Homo sapiens: one gene and its partners. The protein of the gene in region 2 interacts with the protein of the main gene of each other region in a pairwise test. Each region holds a gene or a part of one and is shown on either strand. Other genes may lie near its edges.

The links. Proteins that work in one complex are often made in the same cells at the same time.
Region 1: the proteins of PRKN (region 2) and LNX1 interact in binary tests that used the Homo sapiens proteins (3 or more experiments, as listed by UniProt).
Region 3: the proteins of PRKN (region 2) and RNF112 interact in binary tests that used the Homo sapiens proteins (3 or more experiments, as listed by UniProt).
Region 4: the proteins of PRKN (region 2) and RNF138 interact in binary tests that used the Homo sapiens proteins (3 or more experiments, as listed by UniProt).

Annotation. Positions count from the first base shown.
Region 1 is NC_000004.12:53,583,947-53,588,865, forward strand, and holds part of LNX1 (E3 ubiquitin-protein ligase LNX), read right to left. Parts: intron 1-4,919.
Region 2 is NC_000006.12:162,436,965-162,441,883, reverse strand, and holds part of PRKN (E3 ubiquitin-protein ligase parkin), read left to right. Parts: intron 1-4,919. UniProt on the Homo sapiens protein: Functions within a multiprotein E3 ubiquitin ligase complex, catalyzing the covalent attachment of ubiquitin moieties onto substrate proteins. Substrates include SYT11 and VDAC1.
Region 3 is NC_000017.11:19,413,853-19,418,816, forward strand, and holds the end of RNF112 (RING finger protein 112), read left to right. Parts: intron 1-242; coding exon 243-293; intron 294-596; coding exon 597-653; intron 654-733; coding exon 734-808; intron 809-893; coding exon of another isoform or gene 894-917; coding exon 918-1,035; intron 1,036-1,185; coding exon 1,186-1,355; intron 1,356-1,433; coding exon 1,434-1,487; intron 1,488-1,665; coding exon 1,666-1,740; intron 1,741-1,852; coding exon 1,853-2,323; 3' UTR 2,324-3,424; downstream 3,425-4,964. UniProt on the Homo sapiens protein: E3 ubiquitin-protein ligase that plays an important role in neuronal differentiation, including neurogenesis and gliogenesis, during brain development.
Region 4 is NC_000018.10:32,094,495-32,099,413, reverse strand, and holds part of RNF138 (E3 ubiquitin-protein ligase RNF138), read right to left. Parts: intron 4,911-4,919; exon of another isoform or gene 4,808-4,910; intron 1-4,807. UniProt on the Homo sapiens protein: E3 ubiquitin-protein ligase involved in DNA damage response by promoting DNA resection and homologous recombination.

The sequences.
Region 1 (4,919 bases), on a different chromosome or scaffold from region 2:
CAACAACAACAACAACAACAACAACAACGACAAATGAAGGCAGAGTATTTTTGCATTGATTCGGAGCTCTGTTCATGCTAGGAGTCACCAAGGATCCCGGGAAGAGCTGATATCAGAGGGGTATGGAAAAGAAGCAAACTGACATTCTTTCATCCAAAGCTGAAAAACAATTTCAAAAAGTGTTTATGTGTGTATGGTTTTTTTTCTGTTGTTGTTGTTTTTTTTAAAACAGATAACCAAGTTTTACAGAGGGAAGGACAAGATGAGGAAAGATATTTGAATTCTCAACATTTTCCGGCTGTGTTTCAATTCTACAGGGGTCATGGCTTTGCCTAATCCATGCCTGGGATTGGCCTTAAACTCTGTGGGAGTTCCTGTAGGGAATTCCATTTCATCTCCAATACATTTAAGTCTAATTATGAAAACAGAGTTTATCCACAGGAAAAAAAATGTAAAAACACTGCAAGAGAATACATAATACATGGCAATGTGTATAATGCCCCAAGACAGGAGCCATGGACAAGCTTTGGAGGAGAGACAATAGAGAGTGCATGTGGCCCAGAACAATCAAGGAAAGTTAATGGGATAGACGGTCCTTGGGAAGGATCACGAATGATAAATGCGATCTGGACAAGTGGGAAGTAATCCAGGTGAGAAGAACCTGAGCAAATGTGTCAATCAAGGAAGAGTAGTGATCTCTTGATGTGACCCATATGACGACCTCTATGTGAGGTTTTAAAATGATTTATTTAGAAGTCATAGGATTTTGATCGGTTAAGGAACTTAGATTTTCACCAAGTAGAAAAATCCTCTTTTCAAGATCCCTACAGCACCTACCAGCTTCTATCTGAAACACTTCCACTGATGGAGAACTGGTCAGTTTTTCAAATAGCTAGTGCTTCCCACGTTACTTTGACCTTTGGCCTTGTTCTGCCTTTCAGTGTAACGTATATCACATTTGCTTACTCAAAACATGACACACACATCCCCAAATTAAAGACAGCATTGGGTGGTTCCTCCCTTGTTTTTATCTTTGTCTTTGGTTCTTCCAATTGTCTTCCTGGGTAGTCCAGATGGTGGTAAAAGATCTACCCAGGATGCCTTCTAGTTTGTTAAGGTCCCTTTGAAAACCCGTACCTGGAAGTGAAGTTATCCTGTTTTGGTTTGGAGGACTCAGGATTCAGTGGAGTGATCACTTCCTTAACCAGGATACTATGTGTTTACTAATGCAATCTATGATGGTTTTTACTGTTTTGTCTTATTAGATATCTCACACTGTTGACTGGAAGAACTCAGTAGGCCTTTAGAGTACAAAACACTTACTACTGTGGCATGAACATAGAAATAAATGAAGGTAGTGATGATGGCTGCCAATTCTGACTCTCCTTGCCTGTACTTTGCTCAGTATTTCAGCCTCCAAGTGGACAAGAAATCTCTCCATAAGTAGTTGGAAGAGCTTGTGTATATGGTTGTCAGCTGGGGATACAGTGGGTAGAATGAGGGTCCCTGCAAAAGATATATCCATGTCTTAACCCCAGAACCTGTGACTATGACCTTACAGGAAAACGATCTAAGAAGGTGTCATGAGGTTTAGGATCTTGAGATGAGATCATTCTGGATTATCTGAGTGGGTCCTAAATTCAATGACAGATGTCCTTAGACACTTATAAGACAGGAGGAGAAGACACAAACGCAGAGGAGAAGGTGATGTGAGGAGAGAGGCAGAGATTGGAATTATGCACCCACAAGCTAAGGAATGTCTAGAGCTACTAGAAACTGAAAGAGACCAGAGAAGACCCTCTCCTGGAGCCTTCAGAGGAGTGTGGCCCTGCTGTTACCTTTATTTCAAACTTCCAGCCTCCAGAACTGTGAGACAATAAATGGGAGTTGTTTTAAGCCACCAAGTTTATGGGTATTTGTTATGGCAGCCCTAGAAATACAGGGGTTACATATTTCCAGGGGTATTCCTGCAGGAATGGGGTGAATGCTCCCAACGATCCTTTCCAACACTTCTCTATAGGGCTTAGAAATAGGGAAAAATATTTGGAGACAGCAGCCACATAGATTGCTACATATTTAGCAACTCTACCCTATTAGAAAATGTATTAATTTCCCTTTAATTCATTAATAAGTTAGAATACAGATGCTTTCAGAGATGACTGTTAGACTAAATTTGCAAAGGGCCTCAAGGGAAAAAAAAAAGGCCACAGATAGAATGGCTGAGTGTGTGTATGTTGTGGAAGATGTAATATAAGTCAGACAATCATATTTAATGAGGAGTCTGAAAACACATGGTGACTCATGTATTCATGCGAGTATGCAGGAGCCTAAACATGCTGCGCTCTATTCAGAAAAGGCCACGTGACTGTCAAAAGCAGTCATAAGCAAGTTATGCAAATCATCTCAGCAGATAGCAATGACATATTTAGACCTCCCCATCATGCATGTGCTATTGTGCCAAGAAGCTATTAAAGAAAATTCTTGGAGAGTTTCGACTCTGCTGCTGGTGAAGTCTTTTGTGTGCCTGTGACAAATGCGTCAAACACAAGAAGCAAATAAGAGTCACTTGAAAAAAATCATGGAGTCTAAGTCCACATATTCTAAGTCACAAATTAGTGATGTTACCAAAAATGTCCCCGGTTAATTGGGATAGAACTTGCTCCCACTGTTAGAAGTGTACTAGTCAGCCTACCATGCCAAGGAACTTGGCTTTCTAGAGCAGAGAGAAGTTCTTTCAGATGGATAGGTGAAGAAGGGCAAAGGCAAAGAGAACAAGAGTAAACAGATGATTGTAAAAACTGCAAATCTCAAATTGGTGGATCATCTTGTCTACCTTCTACCTGAGGCAGAAATTCTTTTTAGAATATAAAATAAAAAATAATGATTATTACTATTTAATGAGCAGTTTGCAATATGCAAGATACTGTGCTGGGTATTCAACATGTTTTTTCATTTAATCTAAAATAATCCTATGAGATCATTAAGGTAATCTTCACTTTACAGATGAGTGTATGTGCAGCTGAAAAACACAAATCCTCTTTGTCATTCATTTATTAATTCATTCACTCATCCAGCAAACATACACCATGCACTAAATATGCCAAAAAAAATGATCACCTTCAGTGACAAGAAACTCAGTATCCCAAAAGGCAACCTACTACATTTTCGGACAACTCTAATTCATAGAAAGTTCTTCCTCTTACTGATCTGAAGTGTGTATCTGTGTAACTAACCAAATAGGTCACTGTGGTGTCCTCATGTCACACAGAACAAAATGGAGGAAAGGGTAAACACAGAAAGTTTACGGGAGACAACAAACGTTTTCTGTTCCTGATTTCAGCTCAGTGTAGTTTTCCACATTTTATGGTTTTTTTATGGTTTTCATGTCAACCCTATTCTTTGGGGATAGTTAATGATTAAATCATATTAACCCAGGAACAGTGACACAGTCTTCCTTCCAAACAGTTTTGAAAAGCCTTTGATACTTTGGAGGCATTGTCAGAGGACAATAAATTTGCCAACCACATAAAAGAGAGTCTATGTAATGTCAGTACATAAATATTAGGAATAGTTGTATGCTACTGGGAAGTCCATGAATACTGAGGCAATGAGGAGGACACACTTTAGAGCATCTCTTATGTGTCCTCGCCTTGCCAGCATCTTACAGACGGCATTTCGAGTAGTCAAGATCGTATCCTGGTCAAGAGAGTGAAAGGAAAAAAAAAGTAGTCAAGATCCCACCAGACCCTATTTTCTCCACTTTAAGTGAGGAATTCAAATATAGAAAGGAAGTCTTAGCCAAGGTCTTGGAGACAAGGAGACAGTGACAGGTGAAGCCAGGAAATCACCGCTCCAGGAAGACCCGCTGTTTACTCACATCACAGAAGCCCACTCCCCACAGGTTTATGAAAGACCAGGCATTTCCACTGGCAGCCACTCTACCCTGGAACTCCAAGAGAAACAACACAATCTTTGTTAACAGGTTTTCCTCCTCTGCCTTTGGGAGCCTTTTGGGAAATCTTTTTTTGCTCAGTCTTTGGCCCTCAACGTACTACCGTTTCCATCATTATTACATCCAGATAGTAGCATGACCTAAGATGTCTAACTGTAAGCAATATAAAAATGTTTAAAATAATATAACAATAGTTAACACTCACTGAACATTTAAAATATGCCAGGCACTTTCCATGTAATTATTTCAATTATTCCTCCCAACAGCTCTGAGTCTGGGAAGTATTTCATTTCCCAGCTGATGAAACCAAAGCAAAGAAATATTAAGGAACTTATTTAGGCTAGCAACTACATGGTAGAACTGGGTCTGATACACAGACCTGTCTGATACTATCAACTATGCCTTCCTTTCAATATTTACAAGTAACACTGTGGCAGGTACCATTCCAAGCACTTTACACATTTCAACCCATTTCATCTTCATGATAACCCTATTACACAGCTGATGAGAGCAGCTTAAAGAATCTGTCCCAGGTCACACAGGTAGCACATGGTAGATCTGGGTTTCAAAAACCCAGGTAGGCAGCCTGATGCCAGAGACCAGACCACTATTCTAAAGCAGTAGCATTGCCCCACCTAGAATGGAATGAATAAGATTGATATTTTCTAGTGAGGCACTACCCAGTCCCCCCAGTCAGTCTGACCTACCCACCTGGACATGCAGCCCACCTTGCTTCAGTTGTAAGGATGGAGGGGGCCTGTGAAGTACACCATTTTAGCGTCCTTTGGGGAAAAATGTAGCTAAGGAAACTGACATGCAGGGGGGTTGAGGTTCTCCCTTAGGGCTCCGTAGGCAAGCTAGTAGAACAGTAGAACCCACTGACCTCAATCCACTAATCCCTTACTCTTGAATGATGAAAATTTGTGGTATCCCTGAAGGGCGAGACCCAGAGAAGTGACCAGGGCCC
Region 2 (4,919 bases):
TCAGGTTCTAAACTGCCATTTGTGCTGATTCATAAAACAATTAGCGATTTCATATGTAGTTAGACTAATTGCTTCAGATGATTGACTTTGCAAACATATATGCCTAAGACATGTGTTGATTTATGAGTCTATTTTGACAAACACTTCTTAAGCACTTCCAATGTCCTAGGCTTCTCAGGGGATCCAAAAGAGAGACCTAACTCAGCCCCTGTTTTCATGGAGACTGCTCTTTATTTATGAGCCCTAAAACCGAGAGAAATATTAGATTGAACCATATGGGATTGCCATTTTTACAGGTTCAACAATTTCATGTTGTTCAACCTAATAGCTATAATATAAGAATATGAAACATAACTGCCGTATCGCACCTGAAAATATTATGAAGTTTTAAAGGTGGAGAAAACACATCTGGTTGGAAGTCACCAGGAAGAACTTCTTGGATGAATTGAGTTGAGGTAGGATTCTGTAGATGGAGGAATAGGGGAATGAGCATAGAGAATGCTTGCCAAAAAGGATGGGTTCTTGTTCTTCTAGAACCTGAAGAGAGATGTTGAAGATTGGACAAAAAATAAAATATGGGCTATATTTCACATAACCTTGACTAACTTGGCATTGAAGTTTCATTGGTGGGGAACTAGAGAAAAATGTCATGCCATAGAAGGAAATGGGAAGTCTGAAGACCCGGTTTGGTTGGGGGAAGGATGCTGCATTGTTCCAACATGATGGGAGTTGATGCCAGCTGAGTACGTGTGTTTGGAGATGCCTAGCTGGCTGTTGAGAACTTGTGTCTGAGGACACTGAAAAAGAAAGGTTCATACTTATGGAACTTCTATTAAATCACAGTTAAATGATTTAGGTGCCGAGAAGTTGGCAAACTTTGTTCATAGAAGAGTTTCACTGTAAAGACTAGGAAGTTACACATGTAATTGCAAATTGATGGCTATGTTTTCTTTAAGTGTACAACTGGCAGAATTTTAGCATCCTAGATATTCTTGTATAATCTTAGAACATATGTTTACAACTATTTAGTCAATATCATTTAGTTACCCATTATCATTACAGGTGCTATATTTCACAGTATAAGCACAAAATATCTAATAATAAGTTGCTGCTGAGAAAAAGAAGATGGACCTTCCATATGAGCTACTTAATGCTTCCATTAATGAATGTTAAATATACACCTTGGTGTCCTGAAGAGAAGAAGAGATGGCTGGGGTGGTGTCTATGCTTGCTGGGTGTCTTCCTCCTGGTTTCGTATTCTTTATCATAGGTGATATGAACATATATATTAGCTTATCATGCAAAATGAGATATTGTGAGTATAAAAGAAGACCCTGTCAATAATTATTCCAGGACAAAATTATATGTTGGGAGTGTCCTAGGAAAACTGAGGCAATGGTCACCCCACATACTGAGCAGTATCTCTCACACTTAGTTTCACCTTCTTTGAGGAGGAAATTAGTTTTAGTGCCTCACCTCAGGTACTTTGGGGAACTATAGCTTGAGACCACAGTCTTATGAAATGTCATAATTTTAAAAAGCGAGTTTGTCTATTTAACTGGCAAAGGGTATTTGTAAGATTATAATAGAATTGATGTCACATCTAAAAAATTTTCATAGAATTTTCAGTTCTGGGAGAGCATATCCACAGGCCACTTAGAGAAGCACTGTTAGAGTATAGTTATTTTCATTACACACTCATCTGTTCAGTTTTGTTATTGGCAAGACTTTAAGAACTTTAAAAAATTAAAGGAAAATGGAAAAAATATAGACATTGAAAACGAATGATCTGGCACAGATTTTGCTTCTGGGAAGCTGGAGTAGGCATACTTTTCCCTCTTCCTCCCAGCAACTACACTAAAAAGCCTAGACATTGCATATTGTACAGTTGACTCGTGGAGTCATGGAGTTAGGGGTGCCAACCGCTATGTAGACAAAACTCATGTATACTTTTATCTCCCCTCACACTTTACCAGTAGTCTGCTATTGACGGGAAGCCTTACTGATACCATGAACAGTTGATTAATACATATTTTTCATATGTAATATGTACTGTATGCTTATAATAAAAAAACTAGAGAAAACATTAACAGCATTACAAAAAGGAGAGAGGATACTTACTATTCATTAAGTAGAAGTGGATCATCAAGATTTTCATTGTCTTTGTCTTCATGTTGAGTAGGCTAAAGAGGAAGAGGAAGAGGGGGAGTTAGTCTCACTGTCTCAGGGGTGGCAGAGGCAGAAGAAAATCTGCATATAAATGGACCCATGCAGTTTCAACCCATGTTATTCAAGGGTCCGCTGTACAAGCTTAGGAAGATTCTGAAAGTAGTGAGAAGAATGTGGACAGAGTAGGGATTTTAGAACCCAAGGAAGAATCCAGAGGTGAATTTCTTGAGTTTTCTTTTTGCTACGTTACCTCAGATGTGGAACTGAAGAAGCTGGCAACCAGGAAATGTCAACATATATAGACAAAAAGAAAAGAGAAGAAAAAAGAAGCAGAGAGGAAGGGAGGGGCAGAGAGAGAGAGAGAGAGAGAGAGAAGGGAGGGGTAAAGGAAGGGGGAAGGGAAGGGAAAAGGAAGAAAGGAAGGAAGGAAGAAATCCCCAACAATGGCCTGTTTTTTATCCAGAGGACTCAGAAAGGGGCTGCCTAGCAACATAGAAAACATTTAGACAATAACCAGTCTACTCCAGCCAAATGCAACAGAAAAACTGCGGCCCTATCCTTGTCCCCACCAACACTAGTAAAGGCTGAGTGGAGAGCCTCTTGTTTGAAATTTCTGAAATAAAACACTCACTGATGGGTTTGACATAAGAATGGAAGGAACAGAGAAAAGAGTCAGTGAACTGGAAGTTGGAACATAGAAATGACACGGTCCAAATGGCAAAGAAAAGGTAGGCTGGAAAAAGAAAAAAGGAATAGAGCCTCAGAGACCTGTGGTTCTCCAACAGAGCATTTAAAGTTTGTGTCAGGGGATTCCTGGAAGGAGAAGATAATGGTGGGCAAATGCTCAAAGAAATAAGTGTTGGAAACTTCCAAAGTTTGCAAGAGACATAAAGTTATAGATGGATTTATAAAGCTGAGTGAATCTAAAACAGGAAAAACCCAAAGAAACCCACACCAACACACAACGTAATTCAACTTCTTAAAACTAAAGACAAATTTTAGATCTTGAAAGAAGCCAGAGAAATATCACACCTTCCCTATAGGGCTAACATTGTTCTAATTACAGTGGATTTCTCATCAGAAACCATGAAGGCTAGAAGGAAGTGGCACAATGTTTTTCAAATGCTGAAAGAAAAGAACTGCCAACCTGTAATATTATACCCAGTGAAAATGTCGTTCAGGAAGAAAGAACAAATCAATACTTTTTTTTTTAGATAAAGAAAAACTAAGCGAATTTGTCACCAGCAGACCTACCCTAAAAGAATGGCTAAAGAAATTTTCTAAACAAATGAAACAACAAAAAAAGGAATTTTGGAACACTAGGAAGGAGGGAAAAACATAGTAAGCAAAAATATGGTTAAATACAATGCACTGTTTTTCTCCTCTTGAGTTTTCTAAATTATGTTAGAGGGTTGCAGCAAAAGTTATAGCATTGTCTAATGTAGTTCTACATGTAGAAGAAACATTTCAGGCAAACATAAACACAGATGCAAGGAAAGGTAAGATTTCTAAACTTGACCTACAAAATAGCAACTGCAGTAGAGCATGACAAGTTAAGAATGTATAAAGAAATATCTAGAGTAATAGGTAAAGTAGGTAAATTAAAATACAAAATAAAGACAACACCAAATGCTGGTGAGGATGTGGAGAAATTGGATTACTCGCAAATTGCTACTGGGAATATAAAATGGTAGAACCACTCTGGAAAAGAATATAGCAGTTTCATAAAAAATGACATATGTATTTACCAGATGACAGAGTTATACTCTTAGTTATTTATCCTAGAGAAATGAAGACGTAGGTACACACACAAATCTGTATATGAATGTTTATAGCAGTTTTATTCACATTAGCAGAACACGGAAACAACTCTGATGTCTTTCAGTGGATCTGTGGTTCAACAAACTGGTACCTCCACACCCTAGAATATTACTCAGCAGTAAAAAAGGAGCCGACTGTTGATATACAAAATATCTTGGATGGATCTCAGGGGAAATGTGCTGTGTGGAAAAAGCCCATCCCCAAAGATCGTACACTGAATAATTTTATTTATATAACATTCTCAAAACGACAAAATGATAGAAATGGAGGGCAGATTCATGCTTCCCAGCAGTTCTGAAGGGGGTGGAAGCAGGTGAGAGGAGGGTACGACTGTGAAAGGGTAACAGAAGGGACCCTTTGGTGACGGCCGTCCTCTGTGCTGACTGTAACAATGCTTATAGTACAATTATAACGTCTAGCTTGGCAAGATGTTACCACTGGCGGAAGCTGGGGAAAAGGTAGCTGGCATCTTTCTCTGCTATCTCTTACAACTGCGTTAGAATGTGTAAGCATTTTAATATAAAGTTGAATTTAAAAAAAACCTAGGATATCTGTCCACTTTCACAGAGGAATTGAAACTATCACTTTCTTAGAAAATAAGCTTGCTATTTGTCTCTCTTTTAAAGGGAGAGTATGTATTCAATGAGTGATATTTAACATAAGAAATGAGAAAAATAATTTAATTGATTAGCAGACACATTTAAAGACTTGTTCATACTAAGAGTACAGGGTGAGTAAAACTTATAGAGACATTAATGCCTCTTTCTTGAAGCCTTTTTTTATTTATTTATTTATTTTTTTTGAGACAGAGTCTCGCTCTGTCGCCCAGGCTGGAGTGCAATGGCACAATCCCTGCTCACTGCAAGCTCCGCCTCCCGGGTTCAAGCGATTCTCCTGCCTCAGCCTCCCGAGTAGCTGGGATTACAGGC
Region 3 (4,964 bases), on a different chromosome or scaffold from region 2:
TTCCTAAAAGTGGGCTGATGGTCCCAGGGGCAGCTGAAGACCTGATGGATCACATTACCCTCCAGGCTTGTCTCCGGCCTTGAGGCCAGCCCAGCCCTGCAGCCTTCGAGGCCCCCATACTGGCCTCTCCCATACTCTGAGGCCCACAGGCTGCCTGCGAGCTCCCTACTCACCAGGGCCTTCCCCAGTGAAGTCACCCGGCCTCTGTAATCTCTCATACATGTTGTTCTCTCTGATTCCAGATCCTCAGCACCTCCCAGGAGCTGAAGGATACAGACCTGGACTATCTGGAGGTAAAGAGACCTCTGATGTTGGGGCATCCCCCACCCCCACCCTCCCCACTAGGGCTGGACCCAAAGGAACTAGGTGCCCTCCTGGTCTGGCCTAGGGTTTTATGACACTTGAACAGGGTTGAAGGGGGAGGGTGGAGAGTAAAGCAAGAGATGTGTGGTCTGGGGAGAGGCAGGAGAACCCCAGGCTGCAAAAGGGGGAGCCTAGCTCCTACAGCAGGCGTAGGGAGGTGGGGAGACAGGCTTGGGGTGCACCATAGTCCTCAAAGTGGCCCAGCCCTGACGCTTTCTGTGTCCCACCCCCAGATGTTTGTCCACGTGGCCGAGGTGATGGGCAAGCATTATGGGATGGTGCCAATCCAGGTGAGACACCTATCTCTGGATTCATTGGCCCCAGGCCCCGCCACCCCCATTTGCTGGTGTCAGGACCCCTTCTCTTTCAGCATCTGGACCTCTTAGTTCGTGACTCATCCCACCCCAACAAGGCAGGGCAGGGGCATGTAGGCAACATCTTCCAGGTGAGTGGTGCAAGGGGATGGGGTGGAGGGGCCATGGACAGGGCAGAGGTGGGGAAGACATGGGAGGCTGGACCTCCTAGCTCAGAGCACTCCTCTCGCTGCCTCACAGAGATTGTCTGGCAGATACCCCAAGGTGCAGGAGCTGCTGCAAGGGAAGCGAGCCCGTTGCTGCCTCTTGCCTGCCCCAGGGAGGCGGCGGATGAACCAAGGCCATGCAAGCCCTGGTGGTGAGTGTCTCTGAGAGCTGAACCTCTCTTGCGCTGCTCCCAGCTCCCCTCCGGCAACCGAGCCCCTTGAAGCACCCACCTCTCCTGGCCTCTGACACCCCTTCTCCTCCCAAAGCCCGCAGTCTCTCAGCATGCACATCTCTCCCTCAGACACAGATGATGACTTCCGCCACCTTCTGGGGGCCTACGTCTCAGATGTGCTGAGTGCGGCCCCCCAGCACGCTAAGAGCCGCTGCCAGGGGTACTGGAACGAGGGGCGCGCCGTGGCCAGGGGGGACAGACGCCTACTCACGGGGCAGCAGCTAGCTCAGGAAATCAAGGTGTGAAAACTCCCTGGAGACCCAGGCGACTCGGCTGGGCCCCTGCTCTCCCTGACCCCAGCGATGGTATCTCCGCAGAACCTCTCAGGATGGATGGGGAGGACAGGGCCCGGTTTCACCTCTCCGGATGAGGTATGAGCGCTGGGGGATCCAGCATTCTGGCAGGGAGACAGGGGAGGCAGGGAGGTGGGGGCTGTGCCGAGGCCTCCGGGGTGGGGGTCTGTGTGCCCTGGGAGTGGAGATGAGGAAACAAGCAGCGCCCCTGGCTGAGAAGGAAGGAAGGAGGCAGCCTGGGTTTTCCCGTGGACAGATGGCTGCTCAGCTGCACGACCTGAGGAAGGTGGAAGCTGCCAAGAGGGAGTTCGAGGAGTATGTGAGGCAGCAGGTGAGCCCCGGGGCTGCACGGGAGGCAGGTGTGGGCCGGGCAGGGTCCAGATCAGGGAGAGGATACCTGGGACTCCTGGTCAGGGCACCTTCTTTTCCCCTCCCTGTCACAGGACGTAGCCACCAAGCGCATATTCTCTGCGCTGCGGGTCCTGCCAGACACCATGCGGAACCTCCTCTCCACCCAGAAAGATGCCATTCTGGCCCGCCATGGTGTGGCCTTACTCTGCAAGGGGAGAGATCAGACCTTGGAGGCACTGGAAGCTGAGCTGCAGGCCACGGCCAAGGCCTTCATGGACTCCTACACGATGCGCTTCTGTGGCCACCTAGCTGCTGTGGGGGGTGCTGTGGGGGCCGGGCTCATGGGCCTGGCAGGGGGCGTGGTGGGTGCTGGCATGGCAGCAGCTGCACTGGCTGCAGAGGCTGGGATGGTGGCTGCTGGAGCTGCCGTGGGGGCCACAGGGGCCGCTGTGGTTGGGGGTGGCGTGGGTGCTGGGTTGGCTGCCACAGTGGGCTGCATGGAGAAGGAGGAGGATGAGAGGCTTCTGGAAGGGGACCGAGAGCCCCTTCTCCAGGAAGAGTAACAGCCCCAGGAGGTATTGAAGGACAGGAGAGATGTCAGGTGGGGATGAAGAAGAGGGGCAGGTCGGGGGAGGGTGATGCCAGGGATTCCAAGGCACCGCCATGTACTGCACTGCCCTGGTCGAATGCTCGGTGTCTGGGTGGCAGCTGAGCTGGGACTCAAGGTGGCTCTTGGAACCTGGGAGGCAGCATCTGGGGGCAGTGGATAGAACACCCGGCCTGTTTCTGGTTGCAGATGGTTGCCGATCTGCCCTTGTCACAGATAGGCTACATCCCAGGGTTTCTGGCTGCAAGTGAGACTCCACCCTCCCCACCTGGCTCATTTCCCCGATGACCCTGGATTGTAGGAAAGTTAAGCAGGCACCATCCTGGAAGTCTACCCCTAGGTGGTCGAGAGACCTGTTCTTTCACAGATGTGAGAAGCCCCAGGATGATTGACCATGGTGTTCAGGAGCGGGGAGCACTGATGAGGTGCTGGGGATGACAGGAAGGAAGGAACACTGGGCAGAACCAGAGAGATGGGACATGGTAGACTGTGGCCCAGACCCCAGAGCAGAGAAACTTGTTCCCATGACCCTTCCCAAATCTGCTCCAGCAGGACTAAGGTGGCTTTCCCACTCCTGGCCCACAGCCCCAGAGAGCCTGTCTGTGCATCCTGAACCACTCTTTGCTGGGCCTCCGCAAGGGCCTCTCTTGGGTCTGTGTCCTTTTTCAAGCCTGTTTAGATGGGGGAGTGCCCATGCCCTCTGTGAAGTGCCCAAATGCGAAAGAATAACACCTTTTCTTGCATTCTGAGCTAAGCCAGACAGCCTTTATACTAGATTCTATCAAAATCTTGCAAAGGAAAACAAAATGAACAACTTCTACCCTTAAACACATCCTTTCTCCCCTGGGCTTGTAAGAAGATGCAGCTTGATGCAGCTCCTCAAACACCAGGCCCCCTGGGAACTGGGGGTGCGGGAGTTCTCCCTCTGGGGGACAGAAAATCTGACTACTAGGAAGACTTCTAGGCTATGAAACTGACTTCTAGGCTATGAAACTTACAGGGTATGGGTGGGCACATTATCCTTTATTTTATGAAAAATAAAATGTGTGTATGTGAATGTCAGCTTCCCAGTATATTATTGAAACAGAATTTAACCCTCAGATGACTTCATGGTGGGAGCAGGTGAACCAATGAGATCCATTGCTGGAATGCACAGATGGGAAGAGGGAGATTGGAATTCAAGAGATCCAAGGAAGTGAACGTCAGAGGTCCCCATTCAGTGGCTGCAAGAGGCCTCAGGCCAAGGCCAAGTGGATATGGGCACCTTTGCAGGCTCTTCCACTAGGACTTGGGGTTCCGCTCCTCTTGTCTCCTCTCTGAGAAACTGCTTCCCATGATCCTGTCAACAGGCAGTCAACAAGCACCTGTCCCAGCAAGAGGACAGAATGGATACATAAGCAGAGAGAACTTGGTCAAGCCTTGAAGGAAGGAGAAGCCCAGGACCACTTCTGCAGGGCTCAGCCAGCCAGGAGTTCACCCAACTGATTCTCCTCCCAGCCCTGCTCCCCAGCTCCCCAGCTCCCCATCTCAGAACCACAGCAGTAGTCACTGCATCCAATCCTGGCATTTTATAGGTGCACACCCAGAGAGAGAAAGTCTCAGATAAGCCTGTGCAGCTGCTGATGACAGAAGCAGGGGAACCCCGAAGTCCTGGTTCCCAAGCTGGTGCACTTCCTGAAGTTATTTTGTTAAGGTCGACTGTGCTGAAATTGAGATGCTCCTTTTCAGATGCTTCTTCTGGCTGATCAGGTCCAGCTCCAGGGAAGTGTGTGGTGGGCAGAGGCAGCAACGTGGTCTAGAACAGATGGCTCAGCAGTGAAGCTATAGTTAACAGGCTGGGGACAAAATACAGAATGTAGAGAAATCCCAAAGCCAGGGTGGGGTTGAGTGGGGTAAAGACAAATGAGAGTGACTCTCTCTTTTAGGGTCTGAGCCAAGGGTGGGAACAGGGTCTTAACTTTGTGTAGTGTTTGTGGAGAAGGACTTTCTGGAAGCATCTTTCTGAGCCCTTCCACTGTCATCTGGTGGACACATGAGCTATGAAACCTTCCAGACTTTGGAGGCTCAGGATGAGGGGGCCCAGAGACTCAGAGAGGGAGGGTGTTACATGGCTAGAATCCCACCCGGCAGCACTGGAAGGAACAACAGTTCAGTGTCTACCTCTCCCCACTCTTTGCACAGATGGGAAGAAGTTGGCCCAGTGAGGGATGTCTCTGCAGAGACAAGATGAGTAATATTAAGTGGTGTTTGTCTTGTGCCTTGTAGCTTTCAAAACATTTCCTCAAACATTATCTCCCTTAAGCCTTGAAATCATCTCAAGCAGTATGTAGAACACACATTTTCACAGAGGAGGACGCTGAAGCTGAGAGAAATAATGTGTCTCAGTGGAAACAACTAGTCAGAGGTAGGCCAGGACTTGACCCCAAGAGTTCTGGTGCCAAATCCCTGGCTCAGTGGAGCCTTCAAGCCTCTCCAGACTCCAAGACGACCAGGCTTCTGGGTTCCAAACCTGATTAGTTGGCTTCCTGGGCTTCCAACATTGATTCTGTAATTCACAAGAGCCCAGGTGTGACTCATTGACCGAGGTCTCAGCAGCA
Region 4 (4,919 bases), on a different chromosome or scaffold from region 2:
AATAAAATAGAGATATTCAGGTCTCTTATCTCCAATTTTACTGTTCCTTCCTCTGTACAACCAAGCATGTTTCTTCAGACATAAAACGAATTATTCTCATCTCACTTTGGGCTGGAATGGATCAAAGTGCTAGACAGAACTTATTTCAAAACAAAGCAGAAGTAGGAAGGAAAAAGGTACAAATCAAGAATTACTAAAACTAATTTTCATGTTCCTGAAAAGGCCCGTATCTTCAGAACAGGGCATTACCCTATAACCAAAAAAGGTCTCTTTACATTTCTCTCAACTTTAAACTAGCAGATGCTAGACGAATTTCCATTACGCATTCTCCCAACAAAAGGCTAATCAACAACACTGGGAGAGGAAAAACAATATTCCCACTCATCATGCTCCCAATTTCAGTATAAATTAAATAATTTAAAATCTGGCACTTAGTCTATCTATTTTCCGAGTCGATAATCGAGATCATTCCCCAAAAAAACTTCAAAAAAAAAAAAAATCAAAGGTTGTAAACTAGTCCTCAAGATTTAAAATTAAGTAAATCTTTTTTTTTTTTTTTTTGAAACGGAGTCTCACTCTGTCGCCCGGGCTGGAGTGCAGTGGCACCATCTCAGCTCACTGCAAGCTCCACCTCCCGGGTTCATGCCATTCTCCTGCCTCAGCCTCCCGAACAGCTGGGATTACAGGCGCCTGCCGCCACACCCGGCTAATTTTTTTGTATTTTTAGTAGAGACAGGGTTTCACTGTGTTAGCCAGGATGGTCTCGATCTCCTGACCTTGTGATCCGCCTGCCTCGGCCTCCCAAAGTGCTGGGATGACAGGCGTGAGCCACTGCGCCCGGCCTCAACCTTTATTATATAATTAAATAGCACAGATTTTAGGAAAGAAGAAAATTATTTTAAAGTATATACTTAGAGCATAACTACTCAAGTAACAAGATACCAATAAAGCTGTTAAAATTACAAAGCCAGGTGCTGTGGCACTCACCTGTAGTCCCCACTACTCAGGAGGCTCAGGTGGGAGGACTGCTTGAGACCAGGAGTTTGAGACCAGCCTGAGCAACAAAGCAAGACCCCATCTCTAAAAAATTTAAACTATAAGAAATATATTGTGGGCGCAGTGGCTCACACCTGTAATCCTAGCACTTTGGGAGGCCAAGGCAAGAGGATCACTTGAGGTCAGGAGTTCAAAACCAGCCTGGAGTTCAAAACCAGCCTGGCCAACATGGTAAAACCCTGTCTCTACTAAAAATACAAAAAATTAGCAGGGCGTGATGGTGCACGCCTGTAATCCCAACTACTTGGGAGGCTGAGGGAGTAGAATCGCTTGAACCAGGGAGGTGGGAGGTTGCAGTGAGCCAAGACCGCACCACTGCAATCCAGCCTGGGCAACACAGTGAGACTGTCTCAAAACAAACAAACAAACAAACAAAAATAACACACACACACACACACACACACACACACACATATATACATACACATATACACACACACACACAAATACACATACATACACATATACATACACATATATACATATATATAGCCCGAGCAACAGAGTGAGACCCTGTTTCTAAATTAATTAATTAGGCCGAGGATAGTGGCTCATGCCTATAATCCCAGCACTTTCGGAGGCCAAGGCGGGCAGATCACTTGAGCGCAGGGGTTCGAGACCAGCCTGGCCAATATAGTGAAACCTCATCTCTACTAAAAATACAAAAAAACAAAAAACAAAAATTAGCCGAGCATGGTGGTGCATGCCTGTAGTCCAGCTACTTGTTGTGCCTGTAGTCCCAGCTACTCAGGAGGACGAGGCAGGAGAATCGCTTAAATCCAGGAGGTGGAGGTTACAGTAAACCAAGATCCCACCACTGCACTCCAGCCTGGGCAACAGAGACTCGGTCTCAAAAATAAATAATTAATTTAAAATTGTTTTAAAATTAAGGATTAAAAAAAGTAAATATGAACTAAAAACTCAGGAACTGGATGTTCAAGCTGGTCAAATAGGAAATTACACAAATTTGTGCTTAACAAGAAGTAGAAGTTCATTTTAAAAGATGCCTCCTTACAGAGAGGCCTAAAAGCAAAAACAGATTAGATTTCCATTTTTAAGAGTTCAGCAAAGAATCAAACTTGTTATATGTAATTTTTATTGCAATAGTAGCTTACTTCTGCCATGTACAAGAATTATTTCCTTGACTGTTCAAAACAAGGAAGAACAGAGGTTTCCAAGAGCCTTTGAAGATTACAGAATAAAACACCAAAAGAGATAAACACCTTACTCCTACGCCAGTCTGTACTTTCTTCTGAAGCCTTGCTTTGACTACCTGCTCAACTTTCATATTAATTTGTCTTAACATGTTTTTCAAAATATTACATCTGCCAGGTGTGGAGGCTCTTGCCTGTAATCCCAGCACTTTGGGAGGCTGAGGCAGGAGGACGGTTTGCACCCAGGAGTTAGAGACTAGGTTGGGCAACAAAGCAAGACCCATCTCTACAAAAAAATTTTTTTTAATAGCCAGGCATGGTGGTGAGTGCCTGTAGTCCCAGCTAGCTACTTGGGAGGTTGAGGTGGGAAGATTTCTTGAGCCTGGGAGGTCGAGGCTGCAGTAAGCTATGATCATGCCACTGCACTCCTCGCAACAGAGCGAGACCCTATTTCAAAAAAAACAAAAACAAAAACAAAATTACATCTGACCACTCTAAGGCCTCTGAAAATGCTGACTGCTTCCTTAACAATCATTTGCAGATGATCTGAATCCTCAGTTTCCACTCTCACTTTATTCCTGGTTTTCTTCCTATCCTTCTGTTCGTTCCTTGTCTGGCTGCAATTTTCTCCACTCGATATTTAAGTAAGTATTCTCCAACACTTGGCTCTATCTAGGTGCTCTTCAATCTTTCCATTTATATACCTCACTCGGTGACCACTTCGACACCCACAGCTTTAGCTCCATGTATTCCAGATCTACATATGGTATACACACTTAACTACTGAACCCAGTCATCAAATCTTACACTGTCCTTAAAATGTCAGGAGTCTCTCTGCTCCATTCCTACTATCATTTCCTTAGTTCAGGTTCTAATCATTTCTCTCCCTGACACATCAATGAATGACCGACCTCTTCACTAGTCTCACCACTACCAAGCTGAAAACCCTGCTATGAAGGTAAACTTTCTAAAAATGAAATGTGACCACGCTGCTCCCCTGCCAAAAATTATTTACTAGGTCTAGTATTATTCATTAGGTTATCTAATTATTTAATAGGTTTTCAGGAAAACACTCAAATTAGCTTACACAGTAAGTTCCTGCCAATAACGCTAAGCTCCATCTCCACTACGCTGTCTTTGGCTCCAGCCAAACTTCAAAGTCCAGCTCACATTCATCCTCTGTACCCTCCTTGACTCTGGCATTCCCCACAAACACTGAATACAAACGCTGACCTAAGGCATTACTTCATCTAGGAAATTATCCCTATCCTTTAGGCTAATTTAGATACCTGCTCTAGATGCTCACATAAAATCTCTTCTATATCAATCACACTCATTTATAGGTCTCTCCAGCGGACTATTAAGTCTCCAGAGAAACAGTACTTAGTAGTCCCTGCACCAGACAAAGAGCATTCAACAACTGCAGTTTCAGGGAATGAATGGGGATTAAACGGGAGTTTATATTTTAGTAATGTTATTCTAATGATAATGAACTTGCTCCTTTTACTAGGATAGTCAGTAGTCAAATCCTTTCCTGTCATTGAAATGGCAATTAAAATTTTTCATTTTCTAACTGATCCACAGTAACCCAAAGCCCTTATCACTTCAACTCTCTATTCGTGAATCAAAAATTGATTTTGCAGCCAAATATAAATTTCTTTAAAGGCATAGGTCTGTCCTTTGTGAAGAAGGTAGAGCAAATGACATAGATAACTATGTTAATTAAAAAACAGGTCAGGTGCCATGCCTCACGCCTGTCATCCCAGCACTTTTGGAGGCCAAGACAGGAGGATGACTTCAGCCCAGGAGTTCAAGATCTGACTGGGCAACGTAGTGAGGCCCTGTCTCTATAAAAAAGAAAACAAAATTAGTCAGGCATGGAGGCATGCTCCTGTAGTCCCAGCAACTTGAGAGGCTGAGGCGGGAGGGTTGCTCCAACGGGGGAGGTCAAGGCTGCAATGAAACATGATCACACCACTGCACTCCACCCTGGACAACAGAATAAGACCATGTCTCAAAAAAAAACGATAATTTTTAAAATTTCTCTCCAATTCCCCCACTAAACTCCTTCCAACTGATTAAAATCCTGTTCCTCCATTACCACCTCTTCCAAATTAAACTTTTTTTCTCCCTCTGCCTATTCTTTTAATTCATTGTTCAGGCAGAACTGTCTACGTACAATAAGTTGATTTGAGAAAGGTCCTGAATTAAAAACAATCATCTCCAACATTTTCCACAGTCTTGAGGTCAAATCAAATTATAAACCTTGATTTAAAATGTCCCACAAGGGAAGCGGACTAGAGCAATCTACACGGAATTTTGGGGAGTGCTAAAAACTACAATGAGGCCCATTAGGTCAATGACCCAAAGGATAATTAGAATGATTCTATCCAAAAAAGACCTGCTTTATATATATATATATAGTTAGCAGCTATTACAACTTCCTCTCACCTTGCTCTCCTCCCTCCCTTTTATCTACCCAATGCCAACACAGCACTTAAATTTTTTTTAAATATTGGAAAGGGACCAAGTTATGCTAGATTAAAGGTGGAAGATCTATATTGTGCCCTAGACACCTCCAAACGTTTTTTTTTTCATGTCAGATGGGTAATGTGCTGACCCTGTAACAAGGTTTGAGGATGGCATATCTCACACATGCCTGTGAACACTCAATCATCACACTATGAACCGCAAAAGGATCCCTCAAAA